Homo sapiens: one gene and its partner. The protein of the gene in region 2 purifies or fractionates together with the protein of the main gene of each other region. This does not show direct contact. Each region holds a gene or a part of one and is shown on either strand. Other genes may lie near its edges. The genes, in order: GREB1L and TSEN2.

Region 1 (16,918 bases), on a different chromosome or scaffold from region 2:
GCAACTTTGAGACACTCTCAAAAAGTTTGAGAAGTTTTAACTGGAGATTAACAATAACAAACACCTTGTATTAGTTTTAGCAACCCAAAGTTGTTCTGTTTCCAGAAGGACATCAAAGTGAGTGTAGTTGCAATCTGTCAAATAAAAGATTGGTATCTACTATGTATGTTTTCAACACCTCTTTAATCTTGGTTGTCCAACCTATAATGTGACTGACTTCCAGCCTTTTTAGGACATTGCCAGAGTCAGGGAGCTTGTTTTCTTAACAAACATGCCAGAAAACTATAAAGAAAAAATAACTTTTTGGAGGGGGTGGGAGATAACTTTAATACATTAAGCAAATTAAATCAAAGGACAAAAATATAACAGTAGACACAAGACAATTTTGAATCATTAACAAAATGTGAGGTAGACTAGTGAAATTCACCAAATTTTGGTTAAGAACATTTTACAGTAATAACACGGGTGCCCCATTTTCTAAAAATCACAAAAAGCAATTGCATAAATTACAGCCAAAAAAAATTATAACAATTGTCTTCTAGTTTTTCGTTTACATTCAGTATTAACCTGTGTGAACTGTCATACATGCTGAGGTTCAGCAGGTCTACAGGTGAGTTACTGTGTGGGCCTAGCGAATCCATTCATCCCACATCAGTGTCCTAAGGGATTGCAAAGCTTAAAGCTGAACACACTAGGATATATATATATATACACACAAATCATGGTGTCCTGTGCTTGTGCAATTTTATCCTTAAAGAAGGACCTAACATACTCAAGAATTATACTGATGATAAGATGATTTTAAAAGATCCAAACATTAGTAAGATAGGCTTTGAAAAGAATAGGCAGATCAATTTCTCCATTATAGGGGTGATGGTCTTTTGGCTTTATTCTGGCATATCTCTTCCAGAGTTAAATAGTATTTAAGAGCTCATAATAATAATTTGAATTTTCAGAGTGCAGCCCTAACTAATGGAGTACCTGCATCTGATGTAACTACTTAAAAAAAAAGTTCTTTAAACTATGAAGTCATAAAGCCAGAAGAAACCCTGAGAGGCCATCCACCCCAGGTACAATTGTTTCAGAATTCTTTCAAGTATTTTATTTGCCCTATGTAAATGTTATTGGAATATTGCACAGACAGTGGGTTTCTTGGTATTATTTGCATTAGGCCCTTTCAACAAAACAGGAACAAGTGAAATACATTCATATTTAAACCAAATTGCTTCAAAACATACCTCTTTACCAAAAATTCTGCTGTACTAAAATTAAGGAGTATTTTTTAAAGCATATATAAGGCAGGTCCTCTTTGAAGGACAATTAAAAATGGGGTTAAAAGGAATTGTTCACTTCAAAATACAGTTAAAGCATTATAAGTAGCTATATTAAAACCAAGAGATCTGCAAACCATTTTTAGTCTAATACATTCCATTTTTTCACTAGCTTTGTAAACTCCTTGTTGTCATAAGATAATAAAGCTGGTCAATTAACACTATTTGTTCTAAGTAAATGCAGGCTTAGTAGGCCCCTCAGTAGTTTCAGGTCACAAACAAGATTGATTCAAGTAAAAATGGCCATTTTAAGTGGGGATAAAGTAGTAAATATGGGCTAATGAGAAAACTCTCAAGAGATTGTTCAATGATGAGAACTGGAGTAATTTAAGAGTAAACTTCTAAGACTTAGTTTTATCTAGAACACTTTCTAAAAATAATGTTTTTGATTAAAATATTTGAGAAATCTGTAGAAACATATGCCTCCCATTGCCGATACTGGACAAACACCCCCTGCTGATTTTAATGAATCAAAAAGACTCTTAATGGAGTCTTCCTTACTCCTCACAAGAGTCACTGGTAAGATTAAGTAAAAAAACATTTCTCTTTCTATGGCTCAATTTCCCAATTCGGCAATTTCTGTGGCGTTGTCAGTGTAAGGTGGTAATATTTAGTGCATCTTTTAAAGGAAGCTTTGCTTGAGTCCCTGAAAGGAAACAAACTAGTTTCACTCTGCAACAGAACCTCAGCCTGACATTTAGGTTTGCTGGTGCCAACTGCTTAATTCCAACCAAACGGTGGGTGCAGGTTACCTGCTGAAAGCTTCTTAACTGACTTAAGTTCTTGCAAAAGATTAATCACTGTTCCATAGTCTCATAGATAAGATATTCTTAAAGACTGGAAACACATTTAAAGAGTGGGTAAAGCAAAGGAATTAGGCTAGGAGAAGATGCATAAATGCACACAATGCCTGCTCTGCATTTACTGATTTGTTTGTTCAGTTTAAATAGTAAACTTCTAACTCCTGTGGAAATTTTGCCAAAAGTTTCAATACATAGAAGATTATAAATCTTAAACTAACACTGCACAGAGAAAGACAAAGCTACTTCTTTTTTTAAATACAAATATCGTCTACATTCTATCATTTCAAACCCCTGAGTAATACTGTACCAAAGTACAGATCTGAAGAGAAACTGAGGGTTCAGGCCTCAAACGTTAATCTTCAATTGATTCCACACCAATGGCATGAGTCTCATGTAACACATTCAGGCTAGTTAATCCTGACAGTCAGTTTCCCCCTAACATAGTAATAGAAAAAAATAATGCAAACTCCATATTCACTCTCCAAAGTATATCCTCCTCAGGATCCCATGGGCAGACCGTATCTTAAGTAATTGCATAACTGCCTAGGATAGAGTTTACCTGAATTTAAGGGTCCTGTAATTGGAACTGAAGGAAAGTGATGTCCCCAAAGACCTGGATCAGATTTGGGGAGTTCTTTGGAGAATTTAGACAAATATGTTGCACTTTGCTCCACAGTGATTGTACTTTAAAGGAAAAAGAAAAATCCCAAATTGTTTCTGTCCCATCCCACCTAGGCATCTTTTTGCTGTTTTGGTCTCTTCAAAAGCTCATACATGACGTCCAGTAAGAAAGTAGAGAGGCTTGTCATCACTGCTGTTAGCAGTTTGAAACTCGTCCCGGAGGCGGAACTGCCACTCATCTTCTAGCTCTAAGCGGACAATTGTTTGGCGCAAGGAACTTCTGTCTTGGCAGATGACACACAGTGTAGCACCTTCAGGAAAAAAGACAGAAATATGTCCTAGGCTCAGGGATTGAATTTATAAAGAACTTTATCTCTGATTATATTTCCTAAGCTAACACATCTGAGAACCAACAGATGGATAAGCAATCTATCAGAATTGTTTTATTTTATTAAGTAGTTTTGCAAATTCAGTAATTTTTTTTGTTTCTTTTTTTGAGACGGAGTCTTGCTCTGTCTCCAGGCTGGAGTGCAGTGGTGCGATCTCGGTTCACTGCAACCTCTGCCTCCTGGGTTCAAGCAATTCCCCTGCGTTAGCCTCCCAAGTAGCTGAGACTACAGGTGTCTGCCACCAGGCCCAGCTAATTTTTTTTTGTATTTTAGTAGAGATGGGGTTTCATCATGTTGGCCAGGATGGTCTCGATCTCCTGACCTCGTGATCCACCTGCCTCGGCCTTCCAAGGTGCTGGGATTACAGGTGTGAGCCACTGCGCCCAGCCCAAATTCAGTAATTTTTAAGAGTATAAAGTAAGTAATCTTCCAACCACATTCCCTCTTCCCTGTGATAACTAATGTTATGTTTCTCATGTGTTCCTCCTAGATTAGGGTTTCTGAACCTCAGCACTATTGGACTTGGATAATTCTTTGTTGTGGGGGCTATTCTGTGTCTTACCTTTTTTTTTTTTGGAGACGGAGTCTTCCTCTGTTGCCCAGGCTGGAGTGCAGTAGTGCAATCTTGGCTCACTGCAACCTCCGCCTCCTGGGTTCAAGCAATTCTCCTGTCTCAGCCTCCCAGGTGGCTGGGACTACAGGTGCACGCCACCACTCCCAGCTAATTTTTTGTATTTTAGTAGAGACGGAGTTTCACAGTGTTGCCCAGGCTGGTCTCAAACTCCTGAGCTCAGCCAATCCACCCACCTTGGCCTCCCAAAGTGCTGGGATTACAGGCGTGAGCCATCACACCTAGCCTTGTTCTGTGTCTTGTAGGATGTTTGGAATCTAAACATCCTGCAGTCTTGGCTTCTGCCCACTATATGCCAGCAAGCAGCAGCCTCCAGTGCGACAATCAGAAGTGTCTCTGTCTCCTGGGAGGCAAAATCTACCACTCCCCCATCCCCAATAAGTCTCTAAATAAATAAATAAATAAATAAGTGAATGAATGAATGCACAGTCCCCGCACAACCCCTCTCCCTGTTCTCATGCTGCACAGCGTTCTGAACCTCACTTTCTTCACTGATCTCAAAGGTCATTTTATAAGGATTATCTGTGATGTTTAATCTTAGTTTGTTCTTAGGCCAGTCTCTCTTTTTTTTTTTTTTGAGATGGAGTTTCACTGTTGTTGCCCAGGCTGGAGTGCAATGGCGTGATCTTGGCTCACTGCAACCTCTGCCTTCCGGGTTTAAGCGATTCTCCCGCCTCAGCCTCCCGAGTAGCTGGGATTACAGGAGCCACCACGCCCGGCTGATTTTGTATTTATTTATTTACTTTTTTTTTGAGACGGAGTCTTGCTCTGTTGCCCAGGCTGGAGTGCAGTGGCGTGATCTCAGCTCACTACAAGCTCCGCCTCCCAGGTTCACGCCATTCTCCTGCCTCAGCCTCCCCAGTAGCTGGGACTACAGGTGCACACCACCATGCCTGGCTAATTTTTGTTGTATTTTTTAGTAGAGACGGTTTCACCATGCTAGCCAGGATGGTCTCGATCTCCTGACCTCGTGATCCACCCGCCTCGGCCTCCCAAAGTGCTGAGATTACAGGCGTTGAGCCACTGCGCCTGGCCTCAAGTGCTTTTTAAAAATATCTTTATCTTCTGTATTTTGCTCAGTGGGAACCAATAGCAATTACAAGCAAGATACTAAATTTGACTTACCTTTTAGAAATTTAAATTTCTTAAGATCAGCACCTACAAAAGAGTCACAGAGGTACAAAAGGAGTCCACTGAAAAACACCCCTTCACAGTTGACATTGCTGGAGTGGGGTCTGGAGCTGATATAGCATATGGCCACCTGAAATCATCAAGCAAAAATAGCATGGGCATTTCAAGAGCAAGCAAAATATCTGCAGTTCAGCAGAATGACTCAGTACCTTCCTTTTTCTCTATTTCAGGATAAGGTAAAGGAGATGAGTTTTTTCCAATATTAACTTAAATGGCTTGGTTAGTTAAGCTTTGCAGCCTCCTTTATGTAGCGTGCCAAGTGTTAACCTGTTTAAAGCTTCTCTTATTTATGTTTCATAATAAAGGACTATTAGGAGACAAATTAGTAGTAAGAAACAAGCCCTTCCATTTAAGAGTCTTTATCAAATTTAAAAAACTACCTTCCACAAAAAAGCATACTTAGGAAAGATTAAATGTTTGGATTGCCTTATTGGTGAGAATAAAAAATATTTTTGATCAGCTTTCCATTTAGATATACTTAAATTTTCAATTGGATAGAAGCTTAAGACAGTGCATGGGCTGGGTGCGGTGGCTCACGCCTGTAATCCCAGCCCTTTGAGAGGCCGAGGTGGATGGATCATCTGAGGTCAGGAGTTGGAGAGCAGTCTGGCCAACGTGGCAAAATTCCATCTCTAGTAAAAAATACAAAAAAAATTAGCCAGGCGTGATGGTGTGCACCTGTAATCCCAGCTACTCAGGAGACGGAGGCAGGAGAATCGCTTGAACCCTGGAGGTGGAGGTTGCACTGAGCCGAGGTTGCACTGAGCCGAGATTGCACCATTGCACTCCAGCCAGGGTGACAAGAGTGAAACTCCATCTCAAAAAAAAAAAAAAGACAGTGCATGAATTTAAATTTTTGGTTCTATCTGGCTTCTGTGAACAGATGATAACTGCAAAAATTACGGAGAAGTAAGTAAGATAGTTGGGAGTTAAAACAGTGGAATGGCTAAATGCATGAGCCAGTCTGCTTGGGTTCAAATACTGGTTCCTCCATTTAGTAGCCATGGAACAATGAACAGTCTCCTTCATTTCACTATACCTCAGTTTCCTCATCTGTAGAGATAACAATAGTACTTGTTTCATAGGATGTTTTCTGAATTAAATAACTTAGTATTCAGTAAATGTTAGCTGTTGTTAAGTATTGAGATTGTGTTAATACGTAGAGCCCTGGACTCTAGGATAGGGGAATTGGAATATCTGGGTCAGACATGTAAATTACATACATCTTTTACAGTACTTACATAAATACTGTAAAAGATGTTATTAGATCTCGTGGGTGTGGGTTTGTTTTGTTTTTTTTGAGATGGGGTCTCTGTCACTTAGGCTGTAATGCAGTGGCACAAATCAGATCACTGCAACCTTGAACTCCTGGGGTCACGTGATCTTCCCACCTCAGCCTTTTGAATAGCTGGGACTACAGGCGTGCGCCATCACACCTGGCTAATTATTTTTATTTTTTGTAGTGACAGGGTGTTACCATGTTGTCCAGGCTGGTCTCGAACTCCTGGCCTCAAGTGATCCTCCCACCTCAGCCTCCCAAAATGCTGGGTTATAGGCACGAGCTTCTATGCCTGGCCTTTATATCTGATGGTTTTTAAGGTTCCTTCTACTTCTAAAATTCTATAATTCATTACCCAATCTACAGTGTAGATTACTGAAACATAAAAATGGGAATGTAAAATGTTTACACTGTGAAATTTTAAAAATTAGTTTCCAAAACTGAATACAGTGACTTTAGCGTTAAAAGAGTACGTGTATGGATATGTGTGTTTTTTTCAATACATACAAAGAAAAAGCCCTGGAAGGAAATGTAGTACACCAAAATATTCTTCTGGCAGGTGACTTTACTTTCTTATGATTTTAAAACATTTTTTACAAGGAGGATGTAGTACAGTAATCATTTCTAAAGGGACAGCTTAGTAGTAGGAGCCTGGAGGTGCAAGTGGCAGTTTAAAAAAAACTAAAATGTGAAAAATTTTAGAAAGAAGTCCAAGGGGTGGGAAGTGGAGAAATGCCACCTCTAAAGGCTTCAGGTGATACACATTTATTTGTTCGGTAATCACTGAGCTCCTCTTACGTATGTCTAAAACAATGCCTAAGACATTGTATGTCTTTGAAGAACTCACACTTTTATGAAGAAAAACCCACATAATTACAGTATAATCTGATGAATGTTAAGAGAAGTGGGAACAAGCAACTGCTGCCCAAAGTCACCGAGGTAGGCTTCTTAGAGGAGCTGACAGCTGAGTTGTATATTCTCTGGCTCATTTGTGGAGATAAAATAGGCATGGGGAGGGCAAACTGCCATTGCATGTTGTGTGAACCTTTGCATAAGTGAGTATGCAAAAGGGTAGAAATACAAGTTTTGATCTGTATTACTATCTTTAATAAAAGTTCTGGCAAAGGACCAGACTGGCATCTTGATTGATATTTCATGTCACAGGCTCCTTTTTTGTAAACAGCTAAAATGAGAAAGAAATGGATGGATGTAGGTAAGCACAGTATCCCCCACACCCTTTTTACCTCTGGTCCAATGTTAAGGTAGCAGTCAATGGCCAGCACAGGACTCCTGAAGTTATGGATGGCTTTGGGGAAGAGTTTATATGAGGCGTGCTGAAGGAATTTCTCCAGGAGAAACTGTGCAGGGGCTGCCAGTAGTGTGTGTTCACTGTCGGGAGCACAGATGTATTGAAGGGGCAAGATGGGTGCTAAGCTCTCTGACACCTGAAATCAGAGGCGAGATGATCATGGGAAACTTGTCTGTCACTGGATTAAACAGGTGAGGAAACACTGAAGTGTATCCTAACAGTCGCCAAATAATAGCAGTAGCACAGTGAGGGGTGCTAGGTTCAAATGTATGTTAGTAAAGGGTCCTGAAAATTTTTTTCTCTTGGGAATAGTAAAATAGGATTTAATGTAAGTTACACACAGCGAGGGCAGAAGAAAGCAGGCTTCTCTGAAAGTTACCACATTTAACAGGTACACTGTGAGATCCAATCGGAAGCCTTTTACAGTGTGTGTGGGTTAAATCCTATCTCATCCTAACTCTACCCCACAACCCCACCAAAAAAATGGCAAAGAGGTTTCTAAGCTCCACTGGTAGCCCCCATGCTGTGAATTACTACATTCAGTAGATTTCTTAGAAAAGGGTAGTAATACAGGTTTTGATCTTTATTACTATCTTTTAAGAAACTTCTAGCAAAGGATCAGACTGGCATCTTGATTTATATTTCTCTCATGTATTACATAAAGAATGTAAAAATGTGGTGGTGCGTGGTGGCTGAGGCAGGAGAATCGCTTGAACCCGGGAGGCAGAGGTTGCAGCGAGCTGGGATCATGCCACTGCAGTCCAGCCTGGGCAACAGAGCGAGACTCTGTCTCAAAAAAAGAAGGTAAAAATGTAAAGTTTGCCATCTTGAAACTAAAGCCTTGAAGGATGTGTTAAGGCTTAAATCCAAAGAAACTTAGATTTAAGGCTGACATCTAAAGTAATTTTGTTGGATTGTCAAAACAAATGTTTTGGCTCTAGATGAGTCTCAGTAACAGAAATGAGATTGAAAATTTGACATTAAGAACTCCCTAATGGCCGGATGCGGTGGCTCATGCCTGTAATCCCAGCACTTTGGGAGGCCAAGGCGGGTGGATCACTTGAGGTCAGGAGTTCAAGACCAGCCTGGCCAACATGGTGAAACCCCATCTCTACTAAAAATATAAAAATTATCCAAGCGTGGTGGCACGGACCTCTAATCCCAGCTACTTGGGAGGCTGAGGTACAAGAATCGCTTGAACCCAGGAGGCAGAGCTTGCAGTGAGCCGTGATCACGCCACTGCTCTCCATCCAGCCTAGGGGACAGACTGTCTCAAAAAAAAAAAAAAAAAACTCCCTTGTGTTATTTCACTTTTCTAATAAAATAGAAAGTGCTTAATGCCAACATCTAATAACAAAGATAGTCATTATCATTGTGCTTATTTTCAGCACTTGAATCAAGCTTGCGGTACTCACCATGATCTTTGGTTTAATGATAAAGTCCCTTTGCCCTCCAACCTGAACATGTTTCTTCATGAGACTGAAGTTATTAAAGCGGCAGATGAGCAGGCCACTACTGTTTGTTCTCAGATTAAAGTCAGCATCTTCACAGAAATACCTAAATTGTAACCACAACAATAGTTTTCTTCCGCTGGCATATCTCAACCATGATAACTATACACAGAGAAATAAATGTGTGGCAAGATATTAGGAGCCTAAAATAATCAACCATGCTTTTGTGGAGCTGGCCCTCGTAACACTGACCTGGAAAAACTCTGATTTGGGCATTACAGCCTTTCAAGGAAGGGGAAAGTGAGATTATTTTTGTCCCAGCTATGTCACAGGTTTTAGGTATCCCTATGCAAAAACAGGACTATATTCCTATTTGATACACTCCGGCAAAACAGGAATGCAGAGGTGCTCCCAGTTTTAAATTTCTGGCTACAAGCAGGATGAAGCCTCTGTCAAATTTAAAACAGGAGTGAAAGCAGCAGCTATTCTATAACCGTAAGTTTGGCATAAGGACTTTATGGTTCCTGCCTTCTTGCTTGGCCCTCTCAGGTTTTGTAGGAACCTGGACATAATTTATTTGGGAGGCAAGGCCATGGCTACCCTGCTCATCCCCATCTGCTGCCTTTTCCCTACAGTAGGATTTCCCTGAATCCTACTAACATTCAGGAAAATTGATTTCCTTCTGAGTCTGGAGGGTGAAGGAGGGCTTAGTCTAACATTCAGGAAAAGTGATTTCCTTCTGAGTCTGGAGGGTGAAGGAGGCTTAATCTTAGATGTTTGTGGGTCCACACACTGACTTGAGTCAGTAGTTTTTGTGTCTTGAGTTCTTGTTGAATAATGAGATGGCTAAAGTGTTTTCTCTAAGCATTTCACATTGTAACCCCTGTTAAGGTCTAGGTCAGTTTGCTGATAAAGGGGCACACTTTGGGGCTTGTGATCCCCCTTTCTCCTTGCCCACATAAAGAGTCAGCTTCTCAACTGAAGACATACGAATAAAAGCATTACAGAGGCTAGAGCTGGGCAGAAGCAATCAGTAGATGCCAGGATTACCTGCATCCATGAGGCCTGACTTACCTGTTGAAGTCATACTGCACATTCTGAGTCAAGTCTGTGTTGAGGAGAATGAAATCATGCACGTGACACCTAGAGAATGGGGCCTTTAGGCTCTGAGAAGTCAGCTTGCTGCTCCATTTCTGTATGCCCAAGATTGCATAGTGGACAATTTTTGGTGTGGCTTCAATGTGCTGCAAGACAGTCTTCAAGGACACATTCTTACTGGAAACTCCTACTTCCATGGGCTGGCTATGAAATATAGTTTATATAAGATGTTGATAAATATTACAGAAGAGAGGATCATTTGTGAAGTGTCTACACACTACTATATACCAGTAATACTCTCAAGGATAAAATTAACTGATTTACTTCGTATTAGCAAATGGAGAAGAATGTCAAGCCCAGTTTTCACACTGCCTGTCACTATTATAAAGAAACTGCCTTTTGGGGTGGGGCTTATCACTTTCGGGCAAAGAAAGAAATCCGGCCTGTGTCAGAGTGAACAGTGAATAAAGAGTTGCCAAAGAAGAGGTAGCCGGAGGTTGGAAGCATAGAGGTATCCTTCCCAGTTCTGGTAATTGTGTATAATAAGGAATATTTGAAAATTTCACTGGCTTCAAATCCAAAATAGGAACAAGGACACAAAATCACAGTGTTTGAGCTGGGAGGGGCTTAAAGGTCAGCTGGCACAGTGTTGCAATGGGAGTGCTATTGAATTTTGGGGGTTTATTGTGTCGGACTTCTTAAAATGTTTGGCATTCTCTGGTCCTCACAGATGCCCCGACCAGCACCCCCTAGCAATGTGAGGGGGCACTACCCCAGGAAGAGAACCACTGATTTTGGCCCAGGCGTAATTTTACAGGTGATGGACTTGAGATATGGAGAGGTGAGATGACTTTCCTTTTTCATACAGACAGTTAAGAAGCATGACTGCGTGTGGTGGCTCACACTTGGTAATCCCAACACTTTGGGAGGCCAAGGCAGGAGGACTGCTTGAGCCCAGGAGTTCAACACCAGACTGGGCAACATCTCTACAAAAAATTATAAACAAAAAACAGAGTTGGGGCTAAAACCAGGTCTCCTGATTTGAGATGTCAGCAGTCTTTCTCCATAAATCATAGTGTCTCAACAGACTTTATTTTTGTTTTTTTGAGACAGAGTCTCGCTCTGTCACCCAGGTTGGAGTGCAGTGGCACAATCTCAGCTCACTGCAACATCTGCCTCTTGGGTTCAAGTGATTCTCTTGCCTCAGCCTCTCAAGTAGCTGGGACTGCAGGCATGCGCCACCACGCTCAGCTAATTTTTGTATTTTTAGCAGACAGGATTTCACCATGTTGGCCAGGCTGGTCTAGAACTCCTGGCCTTAAATGATCAGCCCGCCTTGGCCTCTCAAAGTGCTGGAATTACAGGCATGAGCCACTGTGCCTGGCCGCAGTAGACTTTAATAGCTAACCAACGCTGTGATCCCAGAATGGTCCAGGAATTTAATGGGCTACTGAATGTCTAAATAAAAGATTCCTAAGTCACCACAAAATGTTCTAGTGAGGGTGGTCTCATGGTTGACTGTTTTGCTCTGGAAAGCTGTCTCTCTCTTTCTTACTTCCGTATGTAACTGTAGTCAAGAAATGTATTGTCCTGTCTATAGCATTGTGTCATACGCCCCCAGCTTGGAAGTCTACCTGGATGGCTCCTGAACACTGTGAATGTTCCATAGGACACATGAGTCATCCATCATGACGATGAAAGGCCAGACACACTGGCGTTTAATGCCTAGCTCCTCCAGGCGGTTTCTCTCCAATTCTAGGTTGTGATATGATAGCTCCTTGATGAGGAACCTGGCAGCACCTGGAAGGCAACATAACCACATCTGCATATCCACACATCCTTCACTCAGGCTTGGCTGAAGCCCCACAGGCAGCTATATTCTCTCCACAGAATGCCTGTTCACATGGGAACCATGCAGGTGGGAGCCAACCAAATGTTCAGAGCAGTGGCTCTCAAACCAGTGTTACTGGGAATCACTTTTAAATGTAGATTCTTAAGAGTCCATTACTAGAGCTGCATTTGAGTCGGTATGGTGTAAGGGCCAGAAACCAGAGATATCTTTGAGGATGCAAATGGTATGAACCACACTTTGAAAGTATTGCAAGAATCCAGTTTCCCTCACAGGACAAAGGAATCCACATCTAGGAAATGCTGTTACTGTTTACTTCCTTGAAGCATGACAAGAGGCTCTCTCAGACTTGGAAGCAGCCACTCACATGTCCTGTACTAGGGAGTTAACTGGGCTGCAGTGAGTGGGTATGCCAATTCCACTGATATGTCCCCTGCTTTAGATACTTCAAGGAAACTGACGGCAGCTTCTTTGAAGAAGACAACTCTGGAAACTGGCACCCTTTCCCTAGATCTGCCTTTTGCAAGAGGCAATATGGTATAGAGATTAAGAGAAGAGACAGGAGCCAAACTGTCTGATTTTGAATCCTAATTCCACCACTTTCTAGCCATGTGACCCTGAACAAATTAAACCCATTGTGCCTTGGCTTCCCCACCTCTAAGAAGACAATAATAATGCCGATCTCATAGGGTTGCTGTATGATGCTCAGGATAGCGCCTAGTACCCTCTAAGTACTCGGTGAATGTTAGTGATTATCAAGATGATAGTCAGTAATCAGCCAAATTTTATGAGTGGGCCATCGTAAAATGAAACAAAACGTAGGTGATAAATGAAAGAAAAGCTATTAAATCTATGGAAGAACCAGAAGCAGTGTGAACAGATCAAGGGTAAAACTGGGATTTAGGAAAATCTACCTTCCAAGAACGTGTGTGTAATAGTTTGCATTCTCAACATAATAAAGGCCATATATGAAAAGCCCACAGCTAACATCATCATAGTCAATGGTGAAAGACTGAAAGCTTTTCCAAAACTGAGATCATGAACAAGACAAGGATGCCACTTTTACCATTTCTATTTAACATAATACTGGAAGTCACGGCCAGAGAAATTAAGGAAAAAATAAATAAATAAAAGGCAACCAAAGAGGAAGGAAGTAAAATTATCTCTGTTCTCAGGCAACATATACATAGAAAACTAAAAATTCCACCAAAAATCCCCTTTAGAATGAATATGTGAATCCAGCAAAGATGCAGATGCAAAATCAACACCAAAATCAGTTGCATTTCTATACCTCAACTGTGAACAATCTAAAGGAAATCAAGAGTTCCATTTACAATAGCATCAAAAAGAAAGACTTAGGAATCAACTAAGGAGGCAAAAGACTTGTACAGTGAAAAGTACAAAGCATTGATGAAGGAAATTAAGGAAGACACCAATAAATGGAAAGACATCCTGTGTTTATGGATTGGAAGACTTGATATTAGATATCAGTGCTACCCAAAGTGATCCATAGCCTTAATGCAGTCCCTATCAAAATCCCAAAGACTTTGCAGAAATAGAAAAATCTATCCTGCGATTCATCCAGTATCTCAGGGGACCCCAAATAGCCAAAACAATCTTGAAAGAGAGGCAAAGTTAGAGATCTCACACTTCCTGATTTCAGAACTTACTACAAAGCTATAGTAATGAAAACAGTGTGGTAGTTTTGATCTGGGCCTATAGAAAGCCCAGAAATAAACCCTCTCATATATGGTCAAATGATTTTTGACAAGGGTGCCAAAGCCATTCAGTGGGTAACAGATGGTCTTGTCAACAAACACAGTTGGGGGCTGGGCACGATGTCTCACACCTGTAATCTCAGCATTTTTGGGAGACTGAGGTAGGAGGATCACTTGAGGCCAGCAGTTTGAGAGCAGCCTGAGCAACACAGACCCATGTCTCTACAAAAAATTTAAAAATTAGCTAGGCATGGTGGCATACGCCTATAGTCCTAGCCACTCAGGAGGCTGAGGTGGGAGGATTGCTTGAGCTCAGAACTTGGAGGCTACAGTGAGCTATGGTCGTACCACTGCACACTCTAGCTTGGGTGACAGAGCAAGACCCTGTCTTAAAGAAAAATGGTGCTGGGAAAACCTGATAGTCACATGCAAAAGAATGAAGTTGGACCCTTACCTTAGACCCTACACAAAAATTAACTCAAAATGGATCAAAGACCTAGACATAAAAGCTAAAACTATAAATCATTTAGGAGAAAACATAGGGGAAGGCCTTGTGACATTGAATTTGGCAGTGATCTCTTACATATGATATCAAAAACAAAAGCTAAGAAAAAATAGACAAACTGGACTTCATCAAATAATAGAGTAAAAGGCAATCCATGGAATGGGAGAAAAATTTTTTTTTTTTTGAGACGGAGTTTCACTCTTGTTGCCCAGGCTGGAGTGCAGCGGTACGATCTCAGCTTACCGCAACCTCCACCTCCCCGGTTCAAGTGATTCTCCTGCCTCAGCCTCTTGAGTAGCTGGAATTACAGGCAAGTGCCACCATGCCAGGCTAATTTTGTATTTTTAGTAGAGACGGGGTTGGTCAGGCTGATCTTGAACTTCCTATTTCAGGTGATCTGCCCGCCTCGGCCTCCCAGAGTGCTGGGATTACAGGTGTGAGCCACTGTACCCGGCCGGGAGAAAATCTTTACCAAGAGTGTATCTGATAAGGCATTAATACCCAGAATATATTTTTTAAAAACTGCTACAACTCAACAACAACAAAATAATTCAGTTGATTTTTCAACAAAGGACTTTGGAGACAAGTCTTCAAAGAAGATATACAGATGGCTAACAAGCACACAAAAAGATGTTCAATATTACTAATCATTAGGGGAATGCAAAACAAAATCACAATGCAAAACACCTCAAAAAAAAAAAGTGTTGGTGAGGATGTGAAGAAATTAGAATCCCTGTGCACTGTTGGTGGGAAGGTAAAATGGTGCAAGCCACTATGGAAAACAGTATGGTGATTCTTCAGAAAGTTAAAAATAGAATTGCCACATGATCTAGCAATCTCGCTTCTAGATACATACCCAGAAGAGTTGAAATAAGGGTCTGAGATATTTGTATACCTGTGTTCATAAAAGCATGATGCACAACAGCCATAAGGTGGGAGCAGCCCAAGTGTCCACTGACGGATGAATGGATAAACAAAATGTAGTAGATACATAAAATGGAATATTATTCAGCCTTTAAGAAGGAAAGGAATTCTAACACATGCTACAACATGGATGAACCTTGAGGACATGCTAAGTGAGATAAGCCAGTCAGTCACTAAAGGACAAATACTGTATCATTCCACTGATATGAGGCACTTAGAGAAAGTAGAATGGTGGCTGCCAGACGCTGAGGGGAGGGAGGGAATGGGGAGTTGTTTAATGGGTATAGAGTTTCTGTTTCACAAGGTGAAAAGAGTTCTGGAAATCAGTCTTAAAACAATGTGAATGTACTTAACACTTCTGAACTTTAACACTTTAGAAGTATTAAAGCAGTACTTTTTTTTTTTTTTTTTGGAGACAGTTTCACTGTTGTCACGCAGGCTGGTGTGCAGTGGCATGATCTTGGCTCACTGCCGCCACCAGCTCCCGGGTTCAAGTGATTCTCCTGCCTCAGACTCCTGAGTAGCTGGTATTACAGGCGCACACCACCACACCCAGCTAATTTTTTTTTTTGTATTTTTAGTAGAGATGGGGTTTCACCATGTTGGCCAGGCTGGTCTCAAAACTCCTGACCTCAGATGATCCACCCACCTCAGCCTCCCAAAGTGCTGGGATTACAGGCGTAAGCTACCGCACCCGGCCATGGCAGTAAATTTTATGTTATGTGATTTTTACCAAAAATAAAAATAATAATTTGTATATTTCATTTGCATATGTGTGTTGGCTTCATTCTCCCCAAATTATTGCAAAAATGGCAAAACTAGTACTAAATAGTTTGGTCAGATCTAGGATGAGAAAACTTTCTCCTAAGGATCAGGCAGGCACAGAAGAAGGTCATATTCATATAGAAAAAGGCTTCAGTTAGTATGAGTATAGGTGGTTTTGGGGAGGCTGAAGGAACAGAAATATTCAGAAGCCTTAATTCACTTGATATAAAGTGATAAACAATTATATTCAAAACAAAACCATTTTTGAAAATATTTTAAGCCCATATTAAGGCTGTTTGAAGTTGAAGGACATGAAAAGGCATAGAAAGGAACAAGAAATGGGAGAGACCTAAGAAGGAAGGGAGAGGCAGAGGCTAGGTTGGGAGACAGTGGAGAAAGAGGAGACCCTGGAGAGAAGAAACACGTGGGTTCAAGAAAACTACTCAGGTCTTATCTGCCCTCCAGTCCAGCTCTAGGCTGGGTGTTATTACTTCCCTTTAAAATGGGAACAAGCAGCTCCTGACTTGGCACTGAGGCACCGACAGAAGCAGATGGGCCAAACTGTTTAGAACTGCAGCGCAAGAAGTGTCCAGAAGAGCGCAGCTCTAAAACACTGGATTCAGTTAGAGATGTCCTGCCTGAGAAAGGAAAATGAAGGCATTCTGACATCTACAGTCTCCACAGCTCTGTCATACATACAACAAGACTGGCCCCCTTTGAGAAATCAGCGCATTGCTCTTAAACTCCAGGAGGAAAGCAGGACTTCTTTCAGGCACATTCCTGTGTCATAGGCAGTAACGATGCTTCCAGCTCCCTGGTTGTACAACAGCCCCCTATAACTTGCTACGTGCCTTAAAGATGAGATGACCTAGGGGCCCCTCTTGATCTGGGTGAACCACTAATGCTGCCTCTCCCTTAGACCATCTTTTTTCTCATGGTTACATTCCTTCCCCAGAGTGCTCAGCTCAGGAACATTTGCAGCCTACATGGGGAAGAATCCCAAACCTTCCCAGGGTGCTCAGTACACCAGTGACTTCTTCCTTAATTACCAGTC
Region 2 (16,918 bases):
TCCCAAATAAAGGAGAGAATACCACTGGCCTTGTCTTAATTTTATAAATTTTTTTAAAAGTTATTCACCAACTCTGGGGTTTTAGTTGAAATGGCCCTCACAGCTGCTGTGGCCCAAAGCCTGCTGCTTCCCTTGGACCCTACAACAGGCCAGCTACCAGCTGCAGGCAAAAGACATCCCTATTAGCCAACATCTCCAGGAACGGATGGCTTTGGAGGAAGCGATTTATTTTCTTCTACTTACTTCCTCATTTGGGGCAGCCTCCCTCTCGCTCATGGCACACTCCGCTTCCTCGACCAGCACGTACTCATGGTCAGGCCCTCTGTCCCCAGGATGCAGGAGGCCGATGTGCTGGCTGCCGTCTTCATGATGAAGGCCACGCTGGAGGATGAGAGCATCTTGTTTGCAGCAACAGACATGGGGCAGAGGTGAGGCATCCTCTCGCACGCTTTTCTCAAAGCTCTCTGTTGTTGGGTGGCAGCCAGAGCCCTCCTGCAGGCAGCCTAATGGCTCACGGGGATCACCCACACCACCTGACTTTCCAGAGTCCCCGTTTACCACAGAAGGTCTCTCTCCCCCTGCTGTGCCTTCCATGTTGGAAACCATTCCAGAGTTAAGCTTGTCATGCACTTGAGCCTCTTCATTCCTTTTCACAGGAGGATGCTCAAGCGGTTTCGTGTAATCCTTGAGGATTCTGCGCACTGTACTCTCATCCTGCCCCTGTCTACGCATCAGCTCTGCTGCCCACTCAACACTATGCTGATACCTGCAAGACAGAAATACTGTTAGAAACAGCACTCGAATTTCAAAATTGAAAAAACAACAAAGCACATAAAACAGACTGGAAGGTGACACACCAAAATGTTTACAGCAGTATTATTGAATGGTGCATTATAGATAAATATTTTTCTTCTTTATACTTTTCTGCATTTTCTTTTCTTTCTTTTTTTATTTTTTTGAGATGGAGTCTTGCTCTGTTGCCAGGCTGGAGTGCAGTGGTGTGATCTTGGTTCACTGCAACCTCCACCTCCTGGGTTCAAGCAATTCTTGTGCCTCAGCCTCCAAGTAGCTGGGACTATAGGCATCTGCTAACACACCTGGCTAATTTTTGTATTTTTAGTAGAGATGGGGTTTCACTATATTGGCCAGGATGGTCTCGATCTCCTGACCTCACGATCCGCCCGCCTTGGCCTCCCAAAGTGCTGGGATTACAGGTGTGAGCCACCGCGTGTGGCCTCTGCATTTTCTAAGTGTTCTGCAACAAGCATATGTTACTTCTTGTTTCTTTGCTTTTACAATATAGTTTCATTTTATTTGCTTTATTTGAAAAAAAAAAAACAAAAAAAAAAACAAAAAAAACTAACCCCCAGTTTAACAAACTATGAAAATTTATCTAATTTAAAACTGATAGATTAAGTGATTTAGGTAAATAAACAAGAAAATGGCCATCCTTTATCAAGATTTTTTTTTTGTATTATTGTTGTTATTTTTTGAGATGGAGTCTTGCTCTGTCACCCAGGCTGGAGTGCAGTGGCACGATTTCGGCTCACTGTAACCTCTGCCTCCCGGGTTCAAGCGATTCTTCTGCCTCAGCCTCCCGAGTAGCTAGGATGACAGGCTTGCGTCACCACCCCCAGCTAATTTTTTGTATTTTTGAACACAAATTTTTGGCCAGGCTGGTCTTGAACTCCTGACCTCAAGAGATCCGACCGCCTTGGCCTCCCAAAGTGCTGGGATTACAGGTGTAAGCCACCGCTCTCAGCTTGTTTTGTATTATTTTCAATTTTGGATCTCATAATGTTTTCAGATAGATATGCCATTCATAATACAAATAACTTGTTTAGCATTGGAAAGCAAAATGAGAATTTCAATAAATATTCATCACAGTGCCTACTAACCCTTTCACAGGATAAGGAGAGAAATGATTTGGCTTATGTAGATTCATCCACATATTCTAACAGAAATGGCCCTTTTCCTCACAATACTTTGCAGAGTAGATTTTATTGATAAAATTCTTGTTAAGTTTCTAAAACTTGAAGCTAACACCCAAGTTACAAAACACTTCCCAAGTTACAAAAAATTATAGGCAAAACAATAGGGCAAAGCATTCATGCCTAGGCTGTTGGGATGTGTTCATGTGATGTGAGAACTACCAGATGTTGGAAATCTGATCAGAAGGTCAAAGACATTGTGAAACTCAAGTGCTTTTTGCCTCGACCTTCAGTGATTAGTCTGAAAGGCATCCAAGACAACACGTGGCTTGTGAGAAGGCAGATGTAACTTTACTTTTCACCTTCTTTTACCTGGTTAAGAAGACTGAACAGTGCTCGATGCGGCAGCACATATACTTAGAATGGCCCCTGTGCAAAGATGACACGCAAATTTGTGAAATGTTCCAAAAGAAAAAAAAAAAGACTGAATATGTCATAGTTTACAAACTGCTATATCTCACACAGTTCAACAAGGACATTGGCTTCTGCTGTACCTAAAAAGAGACTAGTGGTTGCTTAACCCTGATTCCTAAGAATCCCAAAGCTGTCTATACCCTGTTCACCCCACATGAGGATGAACATCAGGGATGCCTCCCTATATACTGGGAATTGTATCCTAAAGATTAACACCTGGTAAGGCTACCCTAATACCTGAGAGTCAGTACGGCACCGTGACTTTGGTATGGCACATTTTGTGTCCAGCCCTGTTACTTATAACTGTGTGGCAATGCAAATTACTTAACTTCTCCGTGCTTCAATTTTCCCACCTATAAAATGTGGAGATGAGTACTACCACCTCAAAGGGATCTTGTTATGTATTACTTTTAAAACCAGCAAAAAGAACATAGCTGTGCCACAACCTGCAGGGTGTCTTCTCACCTGGAACATGGCCACCTATGCATACGTTTAAAAGAACTTTCATGTGAGGGGTCTAAAAAGAATCTTAGCTCTTCATATCAACATAAGCATTGGCTCTACAGGGTCTATAAATTTCCTTTATTTGAACACAAATTTTTGTGACAATATATTTTTCTGGGGAAGGGACCCAAAACTTTTGCCAAATTCCGTGACTCAAAACACGTGACAGAACCACTGATTTAAAGGGTCAATAGTTCCTCCTTTGACCAGAAGATCTGGAGTGAAGTGAGCACACAGAGGGCACTGCTCTGCTCTTTGCAGCAGAGCAGTCAAAGCAGACGTGGGTTCCAATCCTTGCTCCATCACGTTCTCATACCAGCTATATGACCCCACCTCTCTAAGGCTCAGTGACCATCTACAAACCAGGGATAACTGCACCTACCTCCTGGGGTTGCAGCAAGAATTAAATAAGACACGTAAAGTGCATAGCCCATAAGAAGTGTTCAATCAATACTACTATATCATTGTGGAGTTTTTAGGAGTGGCTTGAAAAATAAATCAGACTCAATATATGGTATCTTGAAAAAGATGTTAATGAATGGAAATGTCTTAATTTGCTGTTGAGAGCAGAGGCAGCAGTGCAGGGATGAACGCAGCCTCTGGAGGTCTAGGTCCTGGAGTTGGCTCTTCCGTGTGGCTCTGAGCTAAGCCACTTAGCACTTCTACCTCTGTGCCTTCTGTCACATACCAGAACCAGGCCATACCTGTGTTCCCTTTTCAGGGTCTCAGAGGATCGCTATGAAAAGTCAAAGGAGACTGAGGCTCGAAGAGCATGTAGAAGAAAGCCTCCAAGTCAGATATGATGAAAAGAGCCACACAAACAAATGACTAAGACAACGACACATGGGTCAGAGCTGAAGGCGTCCTCTAGCTGGCTGGCAACACCTTAAAAAGCCAAGTCCTGTTGCCATCAATCCCAGATGCTGGAGCAGTTGCAGGAAGAGAAATGAGAAGTAAAATGCAGAAAGTGTTAAGGGGGAGCGTGGCAGAAGGATGAGGCAGCAGCCACGACTGGAAGCAGTGACAGGACTGGGGAAAGCAGCACCATCCAGGACCGCAAGGACACAGGACGTGCCCATCAGAACACGCCAAGGCTTCTCATGTTTCTGCACCCTTGAACACACACCTCTCCCATTTGCACAGGGCACCGTTCCCTATTGTTGTACTGATGAATGCCCCTTTATCACTGGAAGTGCACAGCAGAGTGGTTTAGAGTGGTTAGCGCACATAGGTTCTGGGGCCACAGTGCCTAAGTCCACATACTGACCCTGAGCAAGGAGCTTCACTTCCCTGTGTTCAGTTCTTCCAATTGTGGAAGATGGATAAGAACAGGACCCACCTCATGGCAGTGATGTGAGGACCTGAGATGACACACAGGCCCATCACTGGCACGATACTTAGCACTGGAAGGTGCTCAGGGAGTGCTGGTGTGCACACCCATATCAATGTCTCCCAGGCTCTGGCGCTGAGCCCACGTAATCTTGGGCAAGCTACTGAAGCCTCCCCTGAGTCCCCATCTACGAAACAGAAACATCTCTAGTACCTACCCTCGAAGGTTTCTTGAGAAGATGAAAGGAGGTAATGCAGGCAAGCTCAGAGACTGGGAATGGCACTGCCAGAGCAGTCAGCACCTGTTGGCTATAATGGTGATGGTATCTCTATCACAACACCGACTACTACAGGACAGCACAACTGTTCACTTCTCTTCCTCTCTCACTAGACTGTAAATCCTTCAAGAACAGGGACTAGGTCTTTTCCTCGCTCTTGGGTCCCCAGCACCTACCCAATGCCTGACACATAGTGAATTCTGGCTGAATAAAGGACAACGGGGTGGGCAACCAGCACGACCATCAGGGCTGGTCCTTCAGGGACATACCCCTACTTGTGTCAGTTCCCCAAAGGCATCACAGAAGGGTCCTGACACTTACCTTCAGAAAGAGTTACGCAGAAGGTGCGTAACTTTATCCAAGGACGACTATTATTGGAAAAAGGCCAATTTGAGTGAATCGACTTGAAATAAAAATCAGAATTTCAGAGGCATCAGAAAAGAAACAATTATGGCCAGGTGCAGTGGCTCACACCTGTAATCCTGGTGCTTTGGGAGGCTGAGGTGGGAGGATCACTTGAGCCCAGGAGCCCAAGACCAGCCTGGGCAAGAGCGACACCCTGTCTCTACAAAAAATACGAACAACTATTATGACAAGTATTTAAGTTGAAAAATTAATCTAAAAATATGAACATGCATCAATTTTTCTTATATTTAGCAAAATTTAGATTGTGATTCCAAGTGTTGTGAACAAATAATAAATCAAGTATTGGTTTTGGTTGGGGGACGTATGTAGCTTGCTGATAGAACTGTGCTGGTAACATCTTTAAACATCCTTAGGTTCACACGGGGAAATGAGCTGTAATCTGAAAATTTCTTATAAAAAATTAATCCCCACAAGCATACCCCCTTCAAGCAACATTCCTGCACTGTCACTATGTGTCGTTTATGTCACTTTGTCCTTTGTTATGTTAATGTAAATTCAATGCAAATTGACGGCAAATTGAACATTTAAATCTTGCAAAAAAGATGCAGGATTCATGAAGTCTATGAAAGTGATCAAAGTATGGCAAAGGGATTAAAAAATGAGAATCTGGCAGTTAGACTAGAGGAGAATTGAAGGAAAAAATCAACTAAGGTGATAACACAATAAAGTATATCAAGAGCGCTGAGGAAGGAAGAGAGATATATCTGAATGCAGATTGAGTTCATGCCAGGCCTGCTTATTAGTGAATAGTTTATCGCTTTCACTTCTCAGTGCAACTCTGTAACTGCGGGGCCTTGACTAAGGAATAGTAGGACAACATACACCTCCCAGATTACGCACCCCAGTACCTGCGAATATGACTTTATCTGGAAACAGGGTCTTTGCAGATGGAATCAATTTGATCTAAGGACATAGTGACTGGTGTCCTTAAAAGAGGCAAAATATCACATGTACCCATACCCCGAAAATACATACATCTATTATGTATCAATTTTTTTAATGCAAAAAAAAAAAAGAGGAAAATTTGGACAAAGACACACAGAAACACACAAGGGAGAATGCCACATGACCACAGAGGCAGAGATTAGAGTGATGCATCTGCAAGCCAAGGAATGCCAAGGGGTGCCAGGAGCCAGCAGTGAAGGCAGGCAAGGAAGGATGCTCCCCCAGAGCCTTCCGAGGGACTGTGGCCCTGCTGACACCTTGAGTTTGGAATTCTGGTGTCCAAAACCATGACAATAAATTTCTGTTGTTTTAAGCCATTGAGTCTGTGGTACTTTGTTATGGCAGCCCTAGGAAATGAATACAAGGGTCAATGAAACTTCTTGGGATACTGTAGTGCTCCTAAAGAGATGCTCTTCAGGGAGGTAGCCCTCTCCCTGTGCAGAACCTCTACGCTGGCAGGCTGGCTTGACCTTATGTCATGTTGTGGCCAGCCTAGCCAGGATGCAGTTCTGATGGGCGAGCTGCTGCTATTTCTGATCCCTAGGTTTCTGCTGTGGCAACCTGTCTGCACTATAGCTCCTCCAAGGCTGAGGGCTCTGACAGGTTCTTAGCAGGTCCCTCCCACACACCAGAATCCCACTCCTGACCCCAACCTGAGGTTACAGCTGGAACAGCCATTGAGATCTCCCTGGTGCCACCACTCCTTGCCACCCCGCTGGCTATGGGGTTGCCAAGCATGTAACCAAAAAGGAGCTGCCAGATTTTGCACGTATATGCCAGAAGCAAGATGAACAAAATCACTGGGGACCTGAGAAGTTTTATAAGGTTTCATGGAAGAGCTGTACTGTATCACAGGGACAAGGAGGTCTGGGATGGATGGAGACAGTCAACAATCTCACCAAGGGACCACAAAGTGTGGCACTGCAGAGAGGAGAAGGGCCTGATCTCTGCTCTCCAAGCACCGACAGTCTAAACCCACGTATGACACATGAGGAAAGTGCTGCACGCCGAAGAGGGCTGTGGGGGCCAGAGGAGCAGCAGCCAAGACAGAGGAGGGGACGGTGGTAAGGAAAGAAACCCAGGAGAGGTCAGGCATGAGCAGGATTGAGCACATGCAGGAATCAGCCAGGCCATATGTGTGTGTTTGGGGAGTCAGGGAGAAACGTTCCGGGAATGTCTAGGATTAAATGAGGAAGGGCCTCTGTGAAAGCCTCTTTCTCTGACCCTACAGTGTAGCTGGAGGAAGGGGGACAGGACCATCTGTGCCCACCGGGCAGAAGGCTGGTTCAAAATCTAGGCCCAAGAATATGAGGACTTAATAACATAGCTATTACAGGATAGTTATTCATAATTTGGAAAGAATTCAACTGGCAAAACAGTATTTAAACAAACCATAAACTCACGTAAGGCATTGCAAAAATGATTTGATCCACATTAAATTCCAACATAATTTTCAAGGATACATCTACTACCAAAAACAGAAAGAAAAAAAGGTGTGGACTGGACTGCTACATGGGACAAGACTACCTAAAAACATCTGACTTAAACCATCATTTTGACAGAAGCCAAAGTTCATTATGACTTACCTCTTTGATGTGATGATAGGCATGTTTGTCTTCATATCTGGAACAAAGAAGTTCTATTAGTTTCAGGCAAATTTCCCATAAGGGGAACAAACACTAAAAATCTAGGAAAGACTGAGAATTTTAAGATTCACAAAATCACACACCTAGAAAGTTTACTGTCCAGTCAGTAATGGCAAAAATATGCTTTCTATGCCGTCCTTCCCTGAACCCATACCCTTGGCAGGTGCTGCCCATCAATCACATCGGTCTTGCTGGGCTTAGAGGGGACCTCAGAATTCTTCTCAACTCAGGGCTCCAGCTAAGCAGCAACAGCACAGGAGGAAACCTCTCTGCCATGGCTGAATGCTCATTCCAACTTCCAAATGAGAATGCTGAGGCCCTAGAGGTATGCACTTCATCTCCATTCTTCCCTCTTCACTGAAAGCGCCTTCCATGTGTATATCAAAAGTGCTGGAAAAGTGAACTTGATTGCAGTGTTGGTTTTGGATGTGGATTTGGGAGTTCAGGGATCCAGCTCTAGCTCCCTGTGCAGAATCTCAAACTGGCTTGACCTCAAGTTATTTTGAAGACCAGCCTGATGAGGGCGCAGTTCTGACAGGCGGGCTCCTGCTGTTTCTGAATCCCTAGGTTTTGGTTGTAGTTAACTTGCCTGTACCCCAGGCATAAGCAGGGCATCAGGTGGGAGGAGTCTTTCCAACCGAAATGTTTATCAGGTCACCCAGTGGTCTGGGTTTTCGTCCTGGTCTTTTCCTAACTCTGCCTTTGGGCTAATTACTTCTCTTTTCCCAAACTCAGCCTCGTCTGCATGCATTAAATGCTTGGAAGAGATGATGTTCAGCTTTAACCCCACAGGAAAGTGAGCACACCCAGCCAAGATTGCACACCTAGTGACTACTATGGTTGCTGCTTAAAACCAATACCTTTCGGGATGGTTTACTAAGCAGCATTATTGTGACAAGAAGTAACTGATGCAAAGTCTATCCGATTAGGTTGAACAATCAAATCACTATAAAGTTACTCAAATGGCCAGGCTCACTGGCTCATTCCTGTAATCCCAGCACTTTTCAGAAGCTGAGACGGGTGGATTGTCTGAGCTCAGGAGTTCAAGACCAGCCTGGGTAACATGGTGAAACCCTGTCTCTACAAAAAACACAAAAATTAGCTAGCTGCGATGGCATGTGCCTGTAGTTCCAGCTACTCGGGAGGCTGAGGTAGGAGGACGGCATAAGCCCAGGAGGTGGAGGTTGCAGTGAGCTGAGATTGCACCACTGCACTCCAGGCCCTATCTCCAAAAAAACCAAAAGTTACTCAAAATAATTTCTCACTCTGTGGTTATACAACCAACTTGATATAAGCTTCAGTTACTTCATTTCTATGTTTAAAAAAATCTCTTGTAAAAATTTAACTTTTTTTTTTTTTTTTTTTTTTGGAGACGGAGTTGCATTATGTCACCCAGGCTGAAATGCAGTGGCGCGATTTTGGCTCACTGCAACCTCCGCCTCCAGGGTTCAAGCGATTCTCCTGCCTCAGCCTCCCAAGTAGCTGGGATTACAAGTGCCTGCCACCATGCCCAGCTCATTTTTGTATTTTTGGTAGAGACAGGATTTCGCCATGTTGGCCAGGCTGGTCTTGAACTCCTGACCTCAGGTGATCTGCCTGCCTCAGCCTCCCAAAGTGCTGGGATTACAGGTGTGAGCCACCATGCCCAGCCAAACTTTTTTTATAATTATGTAATACATTTATATGGTTACAAAGTCAAATCTATAAAGTCTCACCTCTCTCTGCATCCTGTTTCATCCCTTCCTACTGGAATTTTTAAAAAACTATGCTTTATCCTTCCATTTAAAAAAAATTGGTCAGGCGTAGTGGCTCATGCCTGTAATCCCAGCACTTTGGGAGGCCAAGGCAGGCAGATCACTTGAGGTCAGGAGTTTGAGACCAGCCTGCTCAACATGGCGAAACTCTGTCTCTACTAAAAATACAAAAATTAGCCGGGCATGGTGGGATACACCTGTAATCCCAGCTACTCACCCAGGAGGCTGAGGCAGGAGAATCGCTTGAACCCAGGAAGTGGAGGATGCAGTGAGCTGAGATCGGAGATTGCACAACTGTACTCCAGCCTGGATGACAGAGTGAGTGAGACTCTTGTCTCAAAAAATATAATAAAATATCTATTTTATATTTCCATCTTTTTAGATAAACCACAGCACAGCATGTACTTTCCTTTATACTGTGCTGTCTTCGCTTACCAGCATATCCTAGCGATCTCCCATTCCTGTCTCAGCTCCACGGTCCTTCATTATATGGATTAATTATATAAATATGGATTATTCCACAGGTCCTCTCCTGATGAACATGTAAGTTGTTCCCAGTCTTTGGATATTACAGTGTTGCATGAATAGCCCTGTGCTATTTCTTTTCATATTTTTGTCAGCGTATTGTTAAGATAAATTCCTAGAAGTGAGATTGCTGGATCAAAAGTAAACGCATATACTGGGACAACTGGATATCCACAGGCAAAACAATGAAGCTGGACCCTTACTTTACACAGTATACGAAAATTAACACAAAATGGACCAAAGACCTAAACTTAAGAGTTCAAACTATAAACCTCTTAAAAGAAAACACCAGGGAAATCTGCATGATTTGGACTTGGCAACGGTTTCTTAAATAGATACCAAAAGCACAGGCAATAGTAGAAAAAATAGATAAATTGGACTTCATTAAAATGAAAAACTTTTACCATTTAATACTCATTAGGATGACTATTTTATTTTATTTATTTATTTAGAAATGGAGTCTTGCTCTGTTATTTATTTATTTATTTAGAAACGGAGTCTTGCTCTGTCGCCCAGGCTGGAGTGCAGTGGTGCAATCTCGGCTCACTGCAACCTCTGCCTCTCGGGTTCAAGTGATTCTCCTGCCTCAGCCTCCTGAGTAGCTGGGATTACAGGTGCACAGCACCATGCCCGGCTAATTTTTGTATTTTTAGTAGAGATGGGGTTTCACCATCTTGGTCAGGCTAGTCTCGAACTCCTGACCTCATGATCTGCCCGCCTCGGCCTCCCAAAGTGCTGGGATTACAGGCGTGAGCTACCGCGCCTGGCCGACTATTATTTTTTTAAACAAGTGTTGGCAAGGATGTAGAGAAATTGGAACCTTTGGTGCATTGCTGGTGGGAATGTACAATGATGCGGTCAATGTGGAAAATAGTTTAGCTAGTTCTTAAAATGTTAAACAGACAATTATCATATGACCCATTAATTCTACTCCTGGGTATATATCCAAAACAACTAAAAATAGACTCAGATACGTGTATGCAAATATTCACAACAGTATTATTCAGAAAAGCCAAAATACAGAAACAATCTAAGTGTCCATCAGCAGATGAGCTAAAGGCACTATGTCCAAACAATGGAATATTATTCCACTATAAAACGGAATGAAGTTCTGATAGACACTATGGCAGGGACAAACCTCGAAAATATGCTAAGTGAAAGCAACAGACACAAAAGGGCAAATATTGTATGATTGTTATTTATATATGAAATATCTATAATAGGTAAATTCATAGACAGAAAACATATAAAGGTTACCAGGGACTGAGGAAAGAGAGGAATGGGGGAAAAGAAAACAAAGTAAATGCATAGGTAATTTTGCTAGACATTGCCAAATTCACCTCCATGAGGGTGGTACCACAAGCACCCCACCAGCAATGCAAGAGAAGGTCTGTTTCTGAAGTCCTCACCAATGCAGTATATTGTCAGACTTTTGGATTTCTGCCTGATTGTTGACATGTTATCTCAGTGCAGTTTTAATCTGTATATTTTCTTACAATAAAACCTTTAAAAGATCCTTTCTAATTATGTTTTAACATGCTGGTATTGGTTCTTAAGTAATTACCATGAGAATTCCTTAGATAAATATTCTAAAACATTTATAAATTAAAGAGAATCAGCAAGGGAGAACCACACACATACATGTCATGGCTATTACAAATTCTAATTCTGGAAACAAAATTTTAAAAATTTTGCATAGTGCCACAGGTGAGCAGGTACTTAACTACCAGTACCTGCCATAGGCATAGTACTCTGCTAAGCAAACACTTAACAACAGAAAAGCCCAATTAACACTTGATAATTCTAGAAATTAAACACACTGTCACCCAATCATAACCCTTTTGCTTTGATTAGAATTATTCTAGCTAACTTTGGCAGTAAAACTGCCAGTGTACATGTTACTTCTCTAGAATTTTACTATATAGCCTGAGATATAAGATCAAAAACAAAGGAAAATGATTAATTTGTCAAAAGAACTGAATGATACAACAACTTTACCTTTCCATTTAGCAACCAGTTTAGGATCTGAAATTGTGAAGCTTGGACGGCTTCTTGAAAGAATACCTTTTCCAAAATAACCCTTCCAGGAAGAGAGAAAATGAAGTTAGTTCATGCTTAGTTACCAGTTTTTTAGCTGAGGTAGAATATACAGTAATCCCTCAGTATCCACAGGGGGCTGGTTCCAGGACCTCTGGTGGATACCAAAATCGGCAGATGGTCGAGTCCCTGATATAAAATGGTGCAGTATTTATATATAGTCTACGTAGGCCCTCCCATATACTTTAAGTCATCTCTAGGCTACTTATAATACCTAATGCAATGCAAATGCTATGTAAATAGTTGTTATATTGTTTAATATAAGAAAATAAAGTCCCCGTTTGGTACACATGCAATTTTTCTCCCAAAATATCTTCAATCCAAGGTTGGGTGAATCCACGGAAGTGGAACCCATGATATGGAGGGCCGACTGTACCCATCTGAGTTAACAAGAGGTTCGCCCCACTTTTCATGTCTTTACATTTTCCCTCTGATTATCTAATGATGACTAAGGATGTTCTTAGCGTAACACCTTTCTAATCGCTTCAAGAGTACTAGTAAGTTTTTAGCACACCTCATTTATCCCATAACTAATGCTTTCAGTCTAGGTCTGATAAGCCGAGGGCAGGCAGAGGCAGAGTTTCTTCTCTACATATGGTTCGGGAACACAGTGTGCCTGAAGGCAGGAGCCATGCTGCCCACTAGGTCCAAAAAAACCTCTTGGATTCTTTTGTACTCCAGAATTGAAGTATTCCTCTCATTCCTGCTGATTCCAAAAACAACATGTATTTTTCCCCTTTTCATTACAAAATATTTAAACACACAGAAAATTGAAAGAATAAAACAAACACCCCTTTCTCCATTTAGATTAACAATCAGAATAAAGAGGCCAGGTATGGTGGCTCACACCTGTAATCCCGGCACTTTGGGAGGCCGAGGTGGGCAGATCACTTGAGGTCAGGGGTTCAAGACCAGCCTGGCCAACATGGTGAAACCCTGTCTCTACCAAAAAATACAAAAATTAGCCAGGCATGGTGGCATGCGCCTGTAGTCCCAACTACTCGGGAGGCTGAGGTGGTAGAATCACTTGAACCTGGGAGGTAGAGGTTGCAGTGAGCTGAGATCATGCCACTGCACCCTAGTCTGGGTGACAGGGTAAGACTCTGTCACAAAAAACAAACAAAAAAAACACCCAGCAACAACAAAAACCAAGAATAAATAATGCATACAGCACTTTATAAAGCCTCTTGCTTAATGTTATATACTGTAAATGAAGGCCTCCCTGGTGAGCTGCCCTTGGCCTACTGAGACTCCTGCCTCACCATGGCCAGTGCCACCCACTCTTCTATCAAGTGTCTAGAGAAGGCACATTTATGGAGACAAGACGCCATTCCGTGGCTGCCTTGGGCCGGGAGTGGGAGCAGGGATTAAGTGTGATGGGCACAAGGGAACTCTGTGGTGATGGGAATGTTCTAAAACTGGACTGTGGTGAGAGTTGTGCAACTCTATAAATTTATGACAATCACTGAATTGTATACTTACAATGGGAGGACTTTATAGTTGTAAATTATAACTCAATAAAGCTGTTTTTTAAAAATGCCCACAGCAATGAACAGATTATGGAAAATTTTTTTTAAAGAACTACCAGTCTTCATTCAACTTGATCAATGCTGGAAAACAGTAAAAACTAGAACTTGTCCTCATCTGAGAAGAGGTCCCCAACCAGGAGGCAGCAGATAAGGAGCTCCATGCCAAAGCCCCATCTGATCCGTGCCTGAGTAGGGACACTATGCCACGCTGTGGCTACCTCTGGGAACGGGATGGGAGTGAGTGGGGAATTTTCACTTTTTTACCCATTACATTTCTGTAAATTACTTTTTTTGTTCCTTTAACAAACATGCATTGCTTTTACAACTAAAGACAAAAAAAATAGTCAATCCATTGAACCTACTTCATCACTGAAATAAAGGTTTGTGGGCAGGGGTGCTCCATCTGTCATTCTATTACCCTAACATATGGCTTTTGGGCACTAATTCAAATTGTACTTTTCCTACAACTGGACCAAACCGCAAGGAAAGAATACACATTGTTCATGGTTGGTGTGGGGGTATGGCTGGGATGGGGAGAAGGAAAGGACTGCTTGCTCAGGGTTGTCTGAAAGTAATCTTACCAAGGCTGCCTGCACTTACTTTCCCATAGAGCTGCTCAATGTCCTCCGCATTCCTCACAATCACATTGTTGTTAATCATTTCAGCACGGAATATCTTGAATTCTTTCAGAGGACCATGGTCCTGACCAAAAGGGATTGGCAATGGAGACTCGTAAGTCTCATACACTCTTCTTTTCCTCTTTGGGGCATGGAAAACTGCTTCTGCCATTTTTCAGAGGAGGTATTCTTTAAAGAGTAGACAACAAACAGAAAGAAACAGACAATCAATAACTACCTTGATCCAAAATGTGAGTACATCTGTACCTAGGCTCAGAAAACTTAGTGGTCTGTGGGAAGAAATAGAGTATTTATAAAGCAATAAACTAAAAGCAGTAAGAACAGTTTGTGTGAGCAATGTAAATCATATTGACCTAGAATACTGCAATTAATCCCCACAATAAACCCCAGGAAATGAGTGGTAATCTTTCTACTCCAGCTGACAACGCTGAGACCTAGTGACATGCCCAAAGCTGCAATGTTAGGTCTCCTGAGAGCAAGCACAACAGGATTTCTGTCTACCAGGAGTGCTTCCATTTCACTCACCCAACAGACATTTACTACCAGGAATTCCTAATAATCATAGGTGCTGGGGAGACAAAGACAAAACTGAGACCCTGTCCTCAACAAATTAAATCTTGCAGGCACTTCATTTTCCAAGAGGATCTTACAATACACACTAAACATTGGGTCAATCAGCTCCCAATTTTTAAAGTACATTAATAAATAATAATGACAGCAGCAGTTATTTAAGGGTCGATTATATACTACCAAATGCTACTGGCTTCAAGCAGGGACTCTAAAGCCAGACTATCAGCATCAGAATCAACTTTACCACTTCCTAGCAGTGTGATTTTGGGCAAAAGTCACTGACTCTCTCTGTGATTTAGTTTCCTCACCTGCAAAATCAAGATAAGAACGACTCTATCTTACAGTTAAGATCCATAAAGTGCTTAGAACAGTACCTGGCACATAGCGTGTACCATTCATGTATCAGCTATAATTAGTATTACAGGGTGAGCAGTAGCAACACCATTTTACAAATAGGAAACAGATTCAGGTTAGAGAGATTTGTAGACGACCCCGAGTGTGGTGGCATCGGGTGACCCAGGTCTGTTGAACTCCCAAGCCCATGCCCTCTCTCTAGATTCTGCTGAAAGCACAGGCAGGGTCTATCTACTTTTGTCTGATGACTCTTTCTCAAAATCAGACGGTGAAGGGTTATTGAGCAGTAACGGAATTACCCACTGTGCACCCAGCACCATGAGGGAGAACAGAAAGCCAAAGCCAGTACGTGTCCCTCTGGGGCCATACATTGGATCCAAGGAGACAAAACAAGTATATAACATAGCTGGAAGCACAGAAAGCAGGTTGGAGCTAACGGAACTGGCTGTTATCCACTAATGTCTAAAGGAGGGAAGTAAATGTGAACATATTGTGTGATGCAGACACAGAGATACAGTAGATGCACTTAACCTAGGAAAACGTAACCATATACATGGGAAAACAATGTAAATGGTGCAAGACATTCCACTCGAGGAGCAGCTGTCCTGGAATGAGATGGGAAACTTGAATCTGCTGCTCCCCCAGTACTAGGTCTAGACTTGATTTCAACTGAGAGCTTACCTGGTGCTTGAAGATACAGTGCGGCCAAATCATACACACGTTTAACCTACATGACTCCGAATCCTCACAAGGGAAAAAATAAGACTAATTACTTAGGTGGCTCCTGCACTCAGTACTTGCATCCCATTGGCAAGGGATGCCATCAAGCCTGAAACAGTCAAGAAGGTGGCCAAAACTGAGGGAGGGGAAGGTGAGTGGCTTTAAGAGTGTCATGACCATTAAGAAAAGGCTTATCCAACGTGTGATGATATCAGTATCCAACTTCTCAAGGAAGAAGCTGAGGAATTATATGAGGACACAGAAAAACACAGACTAAAGAGGAGTTAGAGGAAATGATACATCAATTACAAAGATAACCATGAAAAAGAAGAATCGGGAAGTTGGAACCTTCCTAGAATTGCCATTGTTCTAAGCAGCAACATGCTAGATTAATTTCTAAATAAGGTTCCTTGAAGGAATTACATACTGAGCATTACTTTGTACATTTTATATTTATGCATGCATCTTGCTGTATAGTGTTTATAACAAAACCACGTCTACTGCATGCTCACAGGAAACCTAAGAGATTTTCTTAAGAGCATATTTAGACTAGGCTTTACCTTGCTTGCTGACTTATCCCTCAGCCCAAGTACTAAATTATCACATTTAGTACTCAATTGGAGAGACAATAATTTATTCTAAAACTGAAAATAAACACTGCTTTTTGGGGGCAGGATGTTGGTCTCTAGTAAGGCACTTTTTGAAAGACTTCCAGGAATGGTTTGGACTTTTATGGGATTTTTCACTTTTATAACCTCTGCTCAGCAGCTGACTTATATACATTACATTCGGAATTTTAAAAAAATGAAAAAAGATTTAATGGCCACCTTCAAGAAGTTCTAATAAATTCTCTCAACAAATAAGAGTTGTATTTTAGTCTGCCTCATTTGTTCAGCGTTTTTCCCTCTCAGACTGCTGTCACATCTAAAAAAGGCAAGATTTAGCTGTGACACTTGATCGAAAGAACTCTGTACTCCAACCCAGGTGTGTGGGATGGAAGGGTCCCTGCGACAAAACACCCCTCATAATCCAAGTTCTTGTGTTACTCTTGCTCATGTGGCTGCACACCCCTCAGGAATTTGGCTCGCAGTAGGCCTTCCAGACATGCAAAGCCGCCATTATTATTGTGTGACCTTGCACAACCCACTTTCTCTAAGCCCAGTTTCATCTTCAAATCGAACAGGACTGGAGGAGTCTG

What was found.
Region 1: the proteins of TSEN2 (region 2) and GREB1L purify together in Homo sapiens (affinity purification with mass spectrometry; 2 studies listed by BioGRID and IntAct, with this or other methods). This does not show direct contact.

What each region holds. Positions count from the first base shown.
Region 1 is NC_000018.10:21,508,806-21,525,723, reverse strand, and holds part of GREB1L (GREB1-like protein), read right to left. Parts: intron 11,904-16,918; coding exon 11,738-11,903; intron 10,308-11,737; coding exon 10,080-10,307; intron 9,112-10,079; coding exon 8,970-9,111; intron 7,691-8,969; coding exon 7,490-7,690; coding exon of another isoform or gene 7,097-7,489; exon of another isoform or gene 5,793-7,096; intron 5,037-5,792; coding exon 4,901-5,036; intron 3,067-4,900; coding exon 2,903-3,066; 3' UTR 1-2,902. UniProt on the Homo sapiens protein: Plays a major role in early metanephros and genital development.
Region 2 is NC_000003.12:12,487,110-12,504,027, reverse strand, and holds part of TSEN2 (tRNA-splicing endonuclease subunit Sen2), read right to left. Parts: intron 14,245-16,918; 5' UTR 14,228-14,244; coding exon 14,039-14,227; intron 11,893-14,038; coding exon 11,811-11,892; intron 11,800-11,810; exon of another isoform or gene 9,723-11,799; intron 7,511-9,722; coding exon 7,474-7,510; intron 2,361-7,473; coding exon of another isoform or gene 2,304-2,360; intron 767-2,303; coding exon 244-766; intron 1-243.